Linked DNA regions of Homo sapiens. The protein of the gene in region 1 interacts with the protein of each later gene in a pairwise test. Each region holds a gene or a part of one and is shown in the gene's direction. Other genes may lie near its edges.

The links.
Region 2: the proteins of ABHD5 (region 1) and PCNX2 interact in binary tests that used the Homo sapiens proteins (3 or more experiments, as listed by UniProt).
Region 3: the proteins of ABHD5 (region 1) and MIEF1 interact in binary tests that used the Homo sapiens proteins (3 or more experiments, as listed by UniProt).

The regions. Positions count from the first base shown.
Region 1 is NC_000003.12:43,700,739-43,704,564, forward strand, and holds part of ABHD5 (1-acylglycerol-3-phosphate O-acyltransferase ABHD5), read left to right. Parts: intron 1-1,476; coding exon 1,477-1,849; intron 1,850-3,826. UniProt on the Homo sapiens protein: Coenzyme A-dependent lysophosphatidic acid acyltransferase that catalyzes the transfer of an acyl group on a lysophosphatidic acid.
Region 2 is NC_000001.11:233,288,955-233,292,780, reverse strand, and holds part of PCNX2 (pecanex-like protein 2), read left to right. Parts: intron 1-3,289; exon of another isoform or gene 3,290-3,826. UniProt on the Homo sapiens protein: May play a role in tumorigenesis of colorectal carcinomas with high microsatellite instability (MSI-H).
Region 3 is NC_000022.11:39,500,025-39,503,624, forward strand, and holds the start of MIEF1 (mitochondrial dynamics protein MIEF1), read left to right. Parts: upstream 1-2,265; 5' UTR 2,266-2,413; intron 2,414-3,600. UniProt on the Homo sapiens protein: Mitochondrial outer membrane protein which regulates mitochondrial fission/fusion dynamics.

The DNA.
Region 1 (3,826 bases):
AATTTTTGTATTTTTAGTAGAGATGGGGTTTCGCCATGTTGACCAGGCTAGTCTTGAACTCCTGACCTCAGGTGATCCACCTGCCTCGGCCTCCCAAAGTGCTGGGATTACAGGCATGAGCTACCACGCCCAGTTATTACATGGATTTTTAACATGATAATGAACTTCTATTCCATATACTTGGGTAAACTTGCTCTCTACAAAACTAAGAAAGATGTCATTGTGATTTACCAAAATAAAAAAATTCTTATCAGGAGGTAAAAAAGGGGTGCTAGATTCTCAATTCATGCATTTAACAGACATAATGATTCCCTTCCTTTTGGTTCTAGGGATGCAAATAGGAATGTGAATTGGTCTCTGCTTTAGTGTCAGACATGAAAGTAAGCTACGGTGGAGTGAGTTCTCTAATAGTTATACAGATGGTTTTTATGGGAATACACAGACGTATGTGTTCAAAATGCTGAAGTGGTTTGGCTTGGCACTTAAGCCAAAGCAGCCCCTTTTCTAAACTAGTGGTATTTCCCCCAACTTGAGGGCTTGTGCTCCATTAATATTCTGAATGAATGTTAGGTTTCTTCTTTGCTGCCACTATGTGGATACAAAACATGATATTATTTCTTTGGTTAAAAGGCAGAAACTCCTGTTTCTTCAGTGTCTTGTTTACTGTATATGAATATGCATAAATAATTAAGGGGTATATCAAAAATGCAGCTGTTCAGTTGATAGTTAAATATAAATGATTTCAAATTTAATTTCATTTTTAGGCAATTTTTGGGAGTGTTTAAAGTATTTAGTTCCACAACATTAAAGGTAAAAAAGAGTTTTGGTCTATAAAATTGTGACTATTTGCTTTTTCTAGGAGATTACTAGAGTTGGACCCAAGTTACCTGGTGTGTCATGCTGAGGAGTTCCTACAATACTTTGTCAACCTTTTTTTGAAATGACTTAAGGTTTCACTTACATGTTTAACATAGATACCAGTAATCCTTCCCTAAATTCATGACTACTTTTTAAGGAAAAATGATGCCTTTAAGCCTGACTTCAACTCAAAGTTAACCAAAGAATACCACCTTGAAATTGTAGAACACCTGACAGTATTCTACAAATTCTCTGCAAAGCTAGAGACCTTAAAATAATGGGTTCGGTAACCACTAAGTTCCTTTTCACTTCTAGGAGTATAATACCCTCATTTGACAGATGTGGAAAGAAGTTAGAAGGTAATATGACTTGCCAAAGACCTTGATCACAGGTTACTTGAGGTTTGTCTGAGGTAGGTCTTCCCCTTTAGGTGTAAAACATGGTCATTTAGGATTATTTACTTCAATAAAATGTGTACTTTTTAAAAATAGCTGACAATACAAGCTAAAATCATGAGATTGGATACTAGATGATTTGTAATTTTTGGTTGCTCTGAGAATACTTCCCTTCTCAGAAGTAATAAAATGAAACAGAATTTCTCTTTTATGTTTTCATTAGGTGTGCCTTGCACATACAAAAAAGAACCTGTTCGTATATCTAATGGAAATAAAATATGGACACTGAAGTTCTCTCATAATATTTCAAATAAGACTCCACTTGTCCTTCTCCATGGTTTTGGAGGAGGTCTTGGGCTCTGGGCACTGAATTTTGGAGATCTTTGCACCAACAGACCTGTCTATGCTTTTGACCTATTGGGTTTTGGACGAAGTAGTAGACCCAGGTTTGACAGTGATGCAGAAGAAGTGGAGAATCAGTTTGTGGAATCCATTGAAGAGTGGAGATGTGCCCTAGGATTGGACAAAATGATCTTGCTTGGGCACAACCTAGGTGGATTCTTGGCTGCTGCTTACTCGCTGAAGTACCCATCAAGGTAAGTGGTGGTGACAGAAGAGAGGGATTATAACTGTGCTTCCAAGTACCAGACTCTAGTTCCCATCTTTGGTGGTTGTTAGTGTCTGAGCCACAAGGCAGACATTCTCTTAAAGGACCCTATAGACCACACCACAACTGATGACCAATATAGTAGCTGAAATAATCATGTCAGATCTTCCTATTACACGTACTACATGTTAATAGGCTTGGGAAAGGGGTTTCTATTTGTTAAGCTTAGAATTGTAGAAACTTTAATGTATAATTTTAAGCCACAAGTAAAAATTATTTATTATTATTATCATTAAACCTATGAATCCAGCAGGCTTCGTCTAATGTTTTCTAAGTTATAGTAAGCTGTAAGGGGAAACCAGAAGGTTAGAAGATGTAGGTACTAGTGCTAGCTCTATGACTTAGAGCAAATCACTTAACCTCTAACCTTTAGTTTTCTTTTACCTAAACTATAGAAAATACAACTTCATAGCATATATCCCAGGGTTTTTTATTATACCATACCCTAACCTTTCTCATTATAAAACATTGAATTAATGAACATTTGCTTCAAAGTCTTTCTAGCATCATCTCCTTTCTTTAACTTTTTTTTTTTTTAAGAGATAGAAGCTCGCTCTGTCACCCAGGCTGGAGTGCAGTGACATGATCTCGGCTCACTGCAGCCTCCGCCTCCCAGGCCCAAGCAATTCTTCTGCCTCAGCCTTTGAATAGCTGTGACTACAGGTGCATGCCACCACACTCAGCTAATTTTTGTAGTTTTAGTAGAGATGGGGTTTCGCCATGTTCGCCAGGCTGGTCTCAAACTCCTGACCTCAAGTGATCCACCCCCCTCGGCCTCCCAAAGTGCTGGGATGACAGACCTGAGCCACTGCACCCAGCCCCTTTACGTTATTTTTAAATGCTATTTACTGTCATTCATGTTACTACTCTGAGAGAGGGTCACATTTAAGTGCTAAGAAAACAGGAGAAAAACTCATCTTTGTTTTGATCATCTTTTGGAAAGAAACAACAAAAAATGAATACAGCATTTTTGTGTTGCCAGTGTATTTTTCCATTGGACTGATTTTTAAATCCAAAATTGCAACTGATTTTGACTTTGAGGTCCGTGAGTGAGACATGGGATGATGGTCATTTCAGAGTGCCTGTATGTACCTATAAGATCTCCCCATTGCATAACTCTGGGTGTGTGTTCAACACAGAATTTGATGTGTGAAGCAGCAGCCCTGTGTACCTGAGGTTCTCTTCCTCTGGAACAGCCACTTTTTCTCTATAGACTCTTTATCTAAACTTTAGCATTTACACCTGATTTTTCTGATCTCATGGTCCTATATGTGCTAGACAATAATAGTCCTGTCAACTGGCGGACCTGTTCTTTAAAAAGAAATGCAAATTTTCTTCTCCTGGTTGGCATTTTGGGGTTACTTTCTTTATTTTCTTTTTTTTTTTTTTTTTTTTTTGAGCCGGAGTCTCACTCGGTCGCCCAGGCTGGAGTGCAGTGGCGCGGTATCTCGGCTCACCGCAACCTCCGTCTCCCAGGTTCAAGCAATTCTCCTGCCTCAGCCTCCCGAGTAGTTGGGATTACAGGAGCCCGCCACCACACTGGCTAATTTTTGTATTTTTAGTAGAGACAGGGTTTCACCATGTTGGCCAGGCTGGTCTCAAACTCTTGACCTCAGGAGATCCGCCTGCCTTGGCCTCCCAAAGTGTTGGGATTACAGGCATGAGCCACCGCACCCGCTGGTGTTACTTTCTTTTATTGTGTCCTACTCTTAGTGACAAACACCTATTTGCATTTATGGTGAAAGGAGAAGGAAGTAGATGCTTTTCTGGTACAAGTCAACAGGGCTATTTGTGGGAGTTGAACTTCCTTTGTTTTTTATCAGGTATGTATTATGTCTGTGTCTGTCTTGTGGTATTTATTCTCTGAAGATGTGACATGGAACTCTGCAGGCTAGACCTTGGTCAT
Region 2 (3,826 bases), on another chromosome or scaffold:
GTCTTCTGGTTTCTGAAAGTGCCCTTGAAATAAAAGGCCCTCTTCCCCAAATGGAGGCTTTGTTCTTCAGATCTTCGTGCTTAAATATATTCCTCTGCACTTCAGTGTTGCCTGTGATTGTTAATGTCTTTTTCAATTTGTTCATTTACAATCATTTGTTCCAAGAAGATACCTGACTGCTTACTGACAGCAGGGGCTTAGTCAAAGTTCTGTGAACTTTTCTGTTTTCTTTTTGTTTACAATTTTAGTTTAAACATGTTTAAGAAAGTTTTGGTTGGGTGTGGTGGCTCATGCCTGTAATCCCAGCACTTTGGGAGGCCAAGTTGGGTGGATCCCTTGAGATTAGGAGCACAAGACCAGCTTGGCTAACATAGTGAAATCCTGTCTTTACTAAAAAGACAAAAAATTAGCTGGGCGTGGTGGTGCATGCCTGCAATCCCAGTGACTCATGAAGGCTGAGACAGGAGAATCGCTTGAATCCTGGAGGCAGAGGTTGCAGTGAGCCAAGATCACGCCACTGCACTCCAGGCTGGGTGACAGAGCAAAACTCCATCTCAAAAAAAAAAAAAAAAAAAAAAGAAAGAAAGAAAGAAAGTTTCACTATTGAAAGGATCCACTTTTTAATATAACAGATACTTTGAGTATTTTAAATATTTTTATTATTAATTATTGAGGCAAATTTATTTATAATCCCTAGAATGTACTTAGATCTGGGTGATAATGTGGAAAATAGTGATTAATTAGCATTTATAAACTATGTATATATTTGTGAGAAATGTTTGGAAATGTACAACTGAAAACAGTAAGTCAATTTGGATAACTTGGAAAGAGTATTCAGAGCAGTTTTCTTTACAGCAGGGGCATATGGGCATGATTCTGGCCTTGTGTAAGTTCTGAGAGCACTAGCCTCATGTCAAATACACAGTTCCCAACCTCCTTTTCTTTTGGACAAACTGAAAGATGGTTAGTCTTGAGAGATATTTAAATTGTCACTTATTACATGTGTTTTGTCTTTATTCTTTTGAGATGATAATTAATGGAGATTCAGAGCAGAGTGTTCTTTACAGCAGGGGCATATGGGCATGATTCTGGCCTGTGTAAGTCCTGAGAGCACTAGCCTCATGTCAAAAGACACAGTTCCCATTCTTCCTCTTTTTTTTTTTTTTTTTTTTGAGACAGAGTTTCGCTGTTGTTGCCCAGGCTGGAGTGCAATGGCGCAATCTCGGCTCACCGCAACCTCCACCTCCCGGGTTCAAGCGATTCTCCTGCCTCAGCCTCCCGAGTAGCTGGGAGTACAGGCATGCGCCACCACCCTGGCTAATTTTGTATTTTTAGTAGAGGTGGGGTTTCTCCATGTTGGTCAAGCTGGTCTTGAACTCCCGACATCAGGTGATCCGCCCGCCTTGGCCTCTCAAAGTGCTGGGATTACAGGCGTGAGCCACCATGCCTGGCTCGTTCTTCCTCTTATCAATTGTGTGGCCTTATGCAAGTCACCTTACTTCTCCAGACCTCAGTTTAATCATCTGTAAAATGGGGATAACACTTTCATTTTATAGGTTTAGCAACTGAGGTCCAGGGAGAGTCAGCTATTTGCCCACAGTCATCTATAGTCAGTGGTAAAATCCAGCATTTAGCTGAGGTCCTGTAGCATCCGAGTCTTTGGCCCTTCCAGGACATTATGCTGCCTGACATACTACATATAAGAGCACTTTGAAGGCTGTGAAACCGTGGAGCCACCTGCAGTGGAATTATGATTATGCCAGTGGCATTGTGGTCAACTCCACTGGAGAGGAAGAGTTGAGTGGTGGGAAGAATGGGTTGGAACTTTCACATCCTTCAAGACCCCATGCCGGGCAACATTAGACTTAATTTTCCAGGCCTGGCATATATGTTTGTATGGGCAGCCCTTTCCCCGCTTGTGGACAGAAAGCCTGTCTTTCGTTCTATGGCTGGAGCTTTCTGTTTCCTTTCCTTTAACTTTAGCCAGACTTGTTCTGTTTCCAGTTCTGCTTTTTAAAATTTAATCTTAGAGACCTTCTTTGATAAGACCTACATCATTTCTAATTGCTATAATTATAATTAATAGGATTATCTGTCAAGCACTAGCATAGCACTAGGCAAATAGTAAGCACCCAACACATTCTAATTGTTATTACAGCTAATTGGTGACATTTCTATGACAGTCTGCAGCCGTTTCCCATTCTGGTGTGTCATTATTTTTTCTTAGATCTCGATTCCTCTTTTTTCAATCAATGTTTTCCCAAGATTTTACTATAAAAAGTTTAAAACATACAACAAAGCTGAAATAATTTTACTGTGTGCAGCTATATACATAGCACTTTGAGTTTACCCCATGAACATTTTACTCTACTTGCTTTATCACCTTTCTATCCATTTGTCCATCCTTCTAGCGATCCCTTATTCTACTTTATTTTCTTGATGCATTTCAAAGTAAACTGCACACATCGGTCTGTTTCTTCCTACATATTTCACCTTGCATAATAAATTACAGTTTGATAGAAATTTAAATATACATTTTGAAGAAAGTTGCCATGGAGCTCTGGTTGTGGGCCCCATGCTCTAGGCATCTTGGATTATTCTACTCCTTCATACCCCTAACCCCCTAATACCCCAACCCCCTTCCTGAGGCCTAAGAAATGAAGGTCCAATTGGATATTCAGGTTTGAGAGTAGAATTTAAGGTTTTGCATTTCTTTGACCACCCTTCCTTCCTCCTTTACTTCTTTCCCCCCGCCCCCCAGGCTTCACCTAGACTTCCTCTCCTACTTTTAACATATAAGATGACTTAGTGTAAATTATGGAAAGGTAGCCTCTCCAAAGAGGCAGCCTTTCCTGGCCCATTTAATCCTGTCAGCAGGAGACCTTTGTGCAGCATGCAACCTGCGCAGCCTCGCATAGCAGGCTTGGCCCATTCCACATGATTGTTGTTATTCTCTTGAACTGCTTGGCACGTTGCCATTCTCAAAAGGTTACCTCTGTTCTAGTCAGTCCTAGCATTGTTATCCAGTTTCCTCAAAAGAAAGGCTTTCTCTGTTAATGGATCACATAGTCCATGCTTTCTTTCCTTTGACTCCCAGAACCTTGATATTTGGTCCTTCCACTTCTGGGGGCCTTATTTATTCTTGCATTGAGATGCCTGATCCTTTGCACTATCTCCATAATTTACCTGAATGTCTGGCTTCCTGCCTCCTGCCCTCACCTGCCTGAAGCAGAGTTGTATTTCAGGCGAAGAGCCTGCAGCATGGAGTTGCTTAAAAGGCATCCTTCTGCTCTTCCTAAGCCGGCGCTCGGCAAGTTCTCCCAGGAGAAGGCCATGTTCAGTACGAGCGCCAAGATCGTGAAGCCTAATGGCGAGAAGCCGGACGAGTTCGAGTCCCGCATCTCCCAGGCTCTTCTGGAGCTGGAGATGAACTTGGACCTCAAGGCTCAGCTCAGGGAGCTGAATATTATGGCAGCCAAGGAAATTGAGGTTGGTGGTGGTCAGAAAGCTATCATAATCTTTGTTCCCGTTCCTCAACTGAAATCTTTCCAGAAAATCCAAGTCCGGCTAGTATGTGAATTGGAGAAAAAGTTCAGTGGGAAGCATGTTGTCTTTATCGCTTAAAGGAGAATCCTGCCTAAGCCAACTTGGAAAAGCTGTACAAAATATAAGCAAAAGCATCCCAGGAGCCATACTCTGACAGCTGTGCACGATGCCATCCTTGAGGACTTGGTCTTCACAAGCAAAATTGTGGGCAAGAGAATCCGCGTGAAACTAGATGGCAGCCGGCTCATGAAGGTTCATTTGGACAAAGCACAGCAGAACA
Region 3 (3,600 bases), on another chromosome or scaffold:
ACTTGAACCCGGGAGGCAGAGGCTGCAGTGAGCCAAGATCGCGCCACTGCACTCCAGCCTAAAGACAGAGCGAGACTCCATCTCAAAACAAACAAACAAACAAACAAACAAACACCCTGCAATATCAATCCAAGAGATCCTGGAATGCCTCTTGCCCTGTGAAACCTGGCAGAGCCCTGAGGTTTGGGTCAGTGCCCCCTGCCGTGGGTCTCTGGCCTACAAAGGCACCATGGGTACGTACATGTAAGTGCTAGATACCACCTCACTGCCCACACTCCATTGCCACGGAAGCATCGGGGGCAGGGAGAGGCCTTGTCAGTCTAAGTAAAGATAAGACCCTGAAGAGCAAGTGGATCTAGAGGGGCTGATCCGAAGGGGAGACCCCTCCAAATGACCTCCCTCTGTCCCTCCCTCCGAAAAATAACATTCCATAGAACAAGAAAGTCAGGAGAGATATGAAGAGGTCATCTGGTATGCCGATGGAAATGCCACCAATTATATTTATTTGGGTCACAAAATTCTTTAAAAAGCAAATTAGGGCAGCCTGAAAGAGTGGAAAGAACACACATTTCAGAGTAAGACAGACTTGGCTTCCACTGAAAGCTTCTTTCCTTCTTAGCTCAGTGTCTTAGAAACTACTATGCCTCTCTCCATCTTGGTTTTCTTTTCTTTTCTTTTTCTTTTTTTTGAGACCGAGTCTTGTTCTGTCGCCCAGGCTGGAGTACAGTAGCGTGATCTTGGCTCACTGCAACCTCTGCCTCCCAGGCTCAAGCAATTCTCCTGCCTCAGCCTCCCAAGTAACTGGGATTACAGGTACAATGCCACCACTCCCGGCTAATTTTTGTATTTTTAGTAGAGATGGGGTTTCACCATGTTGGTCAGGCTGGTCTCGAACTCCTGACCTCAAGTAGATCCGCCCACCTCAGCCTCCCAAAGTGCTGGGATTACAGACGTGAGCCACCGTGCCCAGCCCTGCAACAGACTCTTGATTGGTCTCCCTGCCTCAGCCCTGGTTCCATTCCGTTATTCTCAAGCCAGACAGATCCCATTGAAAGGGAAGTCAGATCCCAGCACTTCTTGGCTCTGAACCCTGCTGTGGTTCCTTTGCACCCGCCATCTCCCTCCCAGTTCTGGTAAGGGCCTCCCCTCTGGCCTCTTTCCCAGCTCCTGCTCACTCAGCTGCGAAAGCACTGGCTTTCTCCCTGTGGCTCCTAGACCACGCTGAGCTTAAAGGCTTACCTGGGGGGAGGCCTGAAATGCTCTTCCCTGCAATGTTCTTCTCCTGGTTCTCGTCCTTTTATCAGATAGCCTGACTATTCTGCAATTGCCCACCCCTCTACTGGTAGATATTACCTTTTAATCCTCACCACAGCCCCAAGGCTGGGTGAGGTTAGGAAACTTGGCAGAGGGCAGCTGTCCCTAAGTGGTGGAACTGGAACTAGGAGCCAGCGGTGGCCCCGGTGGCCCCGGACTCCAAAGCCCCAGGCCCTGGGCTTGGCAGAGCCAGGCATGGAGGGAGGCAGTTGGGGGAGGGAGCTTCCATAGAGACACGGCCTCCGTCCTCAAATCTAGTGAGAGACAGAGAAGCAAATGGATAAATTACAGTGCCTGGCATATGGTAGGCGCCAAGAAATACGTTTTGTTGTTGAACAGATTATGAGGCGTAAGATGTGCAGACATTTCCGTGGGGCCCAAAGAAGGCACGTGAGTGTGTTAGAGGGAGGCGAGGAAGGGGCTGGGAGAGATTTCCCAGTGAAGGGGGGCATTTGAGGTAGACTTTGAAGGAAGGGTAGGAGTTTGCCAGAAGCCATGGGGCCTGGGGAGTAGGAACAGCATGGAGGGATGAAAAGAAGGCGATCTGAGAAAATGGGTTTTGAGGAGCTCTGAATATTAGTGTTAGAATTCCCTCAGGTACCCCAGGGCCCCAGCCAGAGATCAGCATATACAGTACAGGAGGCTGGCCAGGTACCCCGACAGGCTAAGGGGTTGCCAGCAGGTGAGGGGCCTACCCGGTGCGGCAGCCTTGTTGGACAGCGAGGCTACCTCCTGCCCTCTGAACTTCTGCCAGCATCGGGACCACCCCGGTACCCACAGCCGGACCCGGACACCGGAGTCCTCTGGGGGCGGGGCGCGAGTGGCCTCTGCAGGCCAGTCCCTTGGTGAGGTCACACACGGAGGCGGGGCTCAGGATTGGGGGGCGGAATCATGCGCAGGGGGCGGGGCCCGAGAGAGAGCTTGGAGAAGACCGGAAGTCCCTCCGCCTCCACTCGCCCTCGTGCTCCCTTCAGCCCCTTCGCAGCTCCGTGCGCAAGGTCGTGTCCCGGAAGTGAAGGGGCCATGTTGATGGGTGACCCGGGGAGAGGTACCCGGCCAGAGGCGAGTCCTGCGGAGTGGTAGCGCGCACGGCCTGCGGGTGAGTGAGAGAAGGAATGAGGGCCGCCGGCGGCTGGGCGGCGGGGAGGTTGCAGCGCCTCCTCTCAGGCTGCTGCCGGCGCCTCGCATGCGGCCCGGAGTCAGGATACCAGCATGCAGCCGGGGGTCTCGCCCCATCCCGCCCTGGACTTTCCCCTGGGAGACCCCTCGGCTGCCCCGCCCCGCCCCAACCTCGGAGACCTCCAGTGCCCCGAAGCAGGCCTGCCCTGGCCTCTGGGCCTCCGCACCCCGGCCCGGCCCCCACGGTTGGTGAAGTGCAGACTGGCTGGGGCTCAGCCGCCCAGTCGCCCAGCGACCTTGTAGTTACAGCCCTCGCCGTGACAGTCGCCTTTTACAGCATCAAACACTTCTGTTGATTTTCTGCATCGGGAGGTCCTTAGGGCCGAGGGATCTCTTAAACAGTTGAGGAAAAATGGGCAGGGATGGTGGCTTGCTCAAGCTTGCGCAGGAAGTTAGCAAGGCCGGAGGCTAAGGGCTCGCGGACTTTGGGCCCAAAGTCCAATCTTTTTTTCCAGCCAAATACTTCCCCCACTTGGTGTCATTTCTTTATTTCTGAAACGGAGGTGATCATTTCTTCCACATAGGGACGTTGTGAAATTCTCTCCGTTACGCATAATTTTGAGCCCCTTGTATGTGCCAAGCGCTGTGCTGGGAAAGTTCGTGGAGCACCCAGAAGTGCTGTACACACGGTCCGGCTCCAGCAAAGGGTAACTCATTCCAGAGGCAGGCAGAGTTGGGGTCAGGAGTGCAGCCCTCCCCTTGACAGCTGTGGGCCCGCGGGCAAGTTACTTCCCTCTGGGAGATTGTTTCCTCCACTTAAAATGGGGTAATGTTGACCCCTAGGGTAGCTGACAGAATGAGTTGTTATGTGAGACATGCTTCGAACATTGCACGTTGTATATAGTGCAATATAATGCAATAAGCATTTACTGTTACTAAGAACCCTGACCACCTTCTAGATTCTTAATTTAAATGTGGTCATGGGCAACAAAGCACTTTACAGATATGCTTGTGTAAGGGTTTATTGTTACTGAAGGAAGGCAGTGGCAGTTTATACTTAAATGTAATTATTTATTGAGCATTTACAAACCTGGCTAGGTGCTACTAATAATATCTGCTGTTGATAGAGTGCTTCGTGTGTGCCAAGTGCTGTTCTAAACATATTCA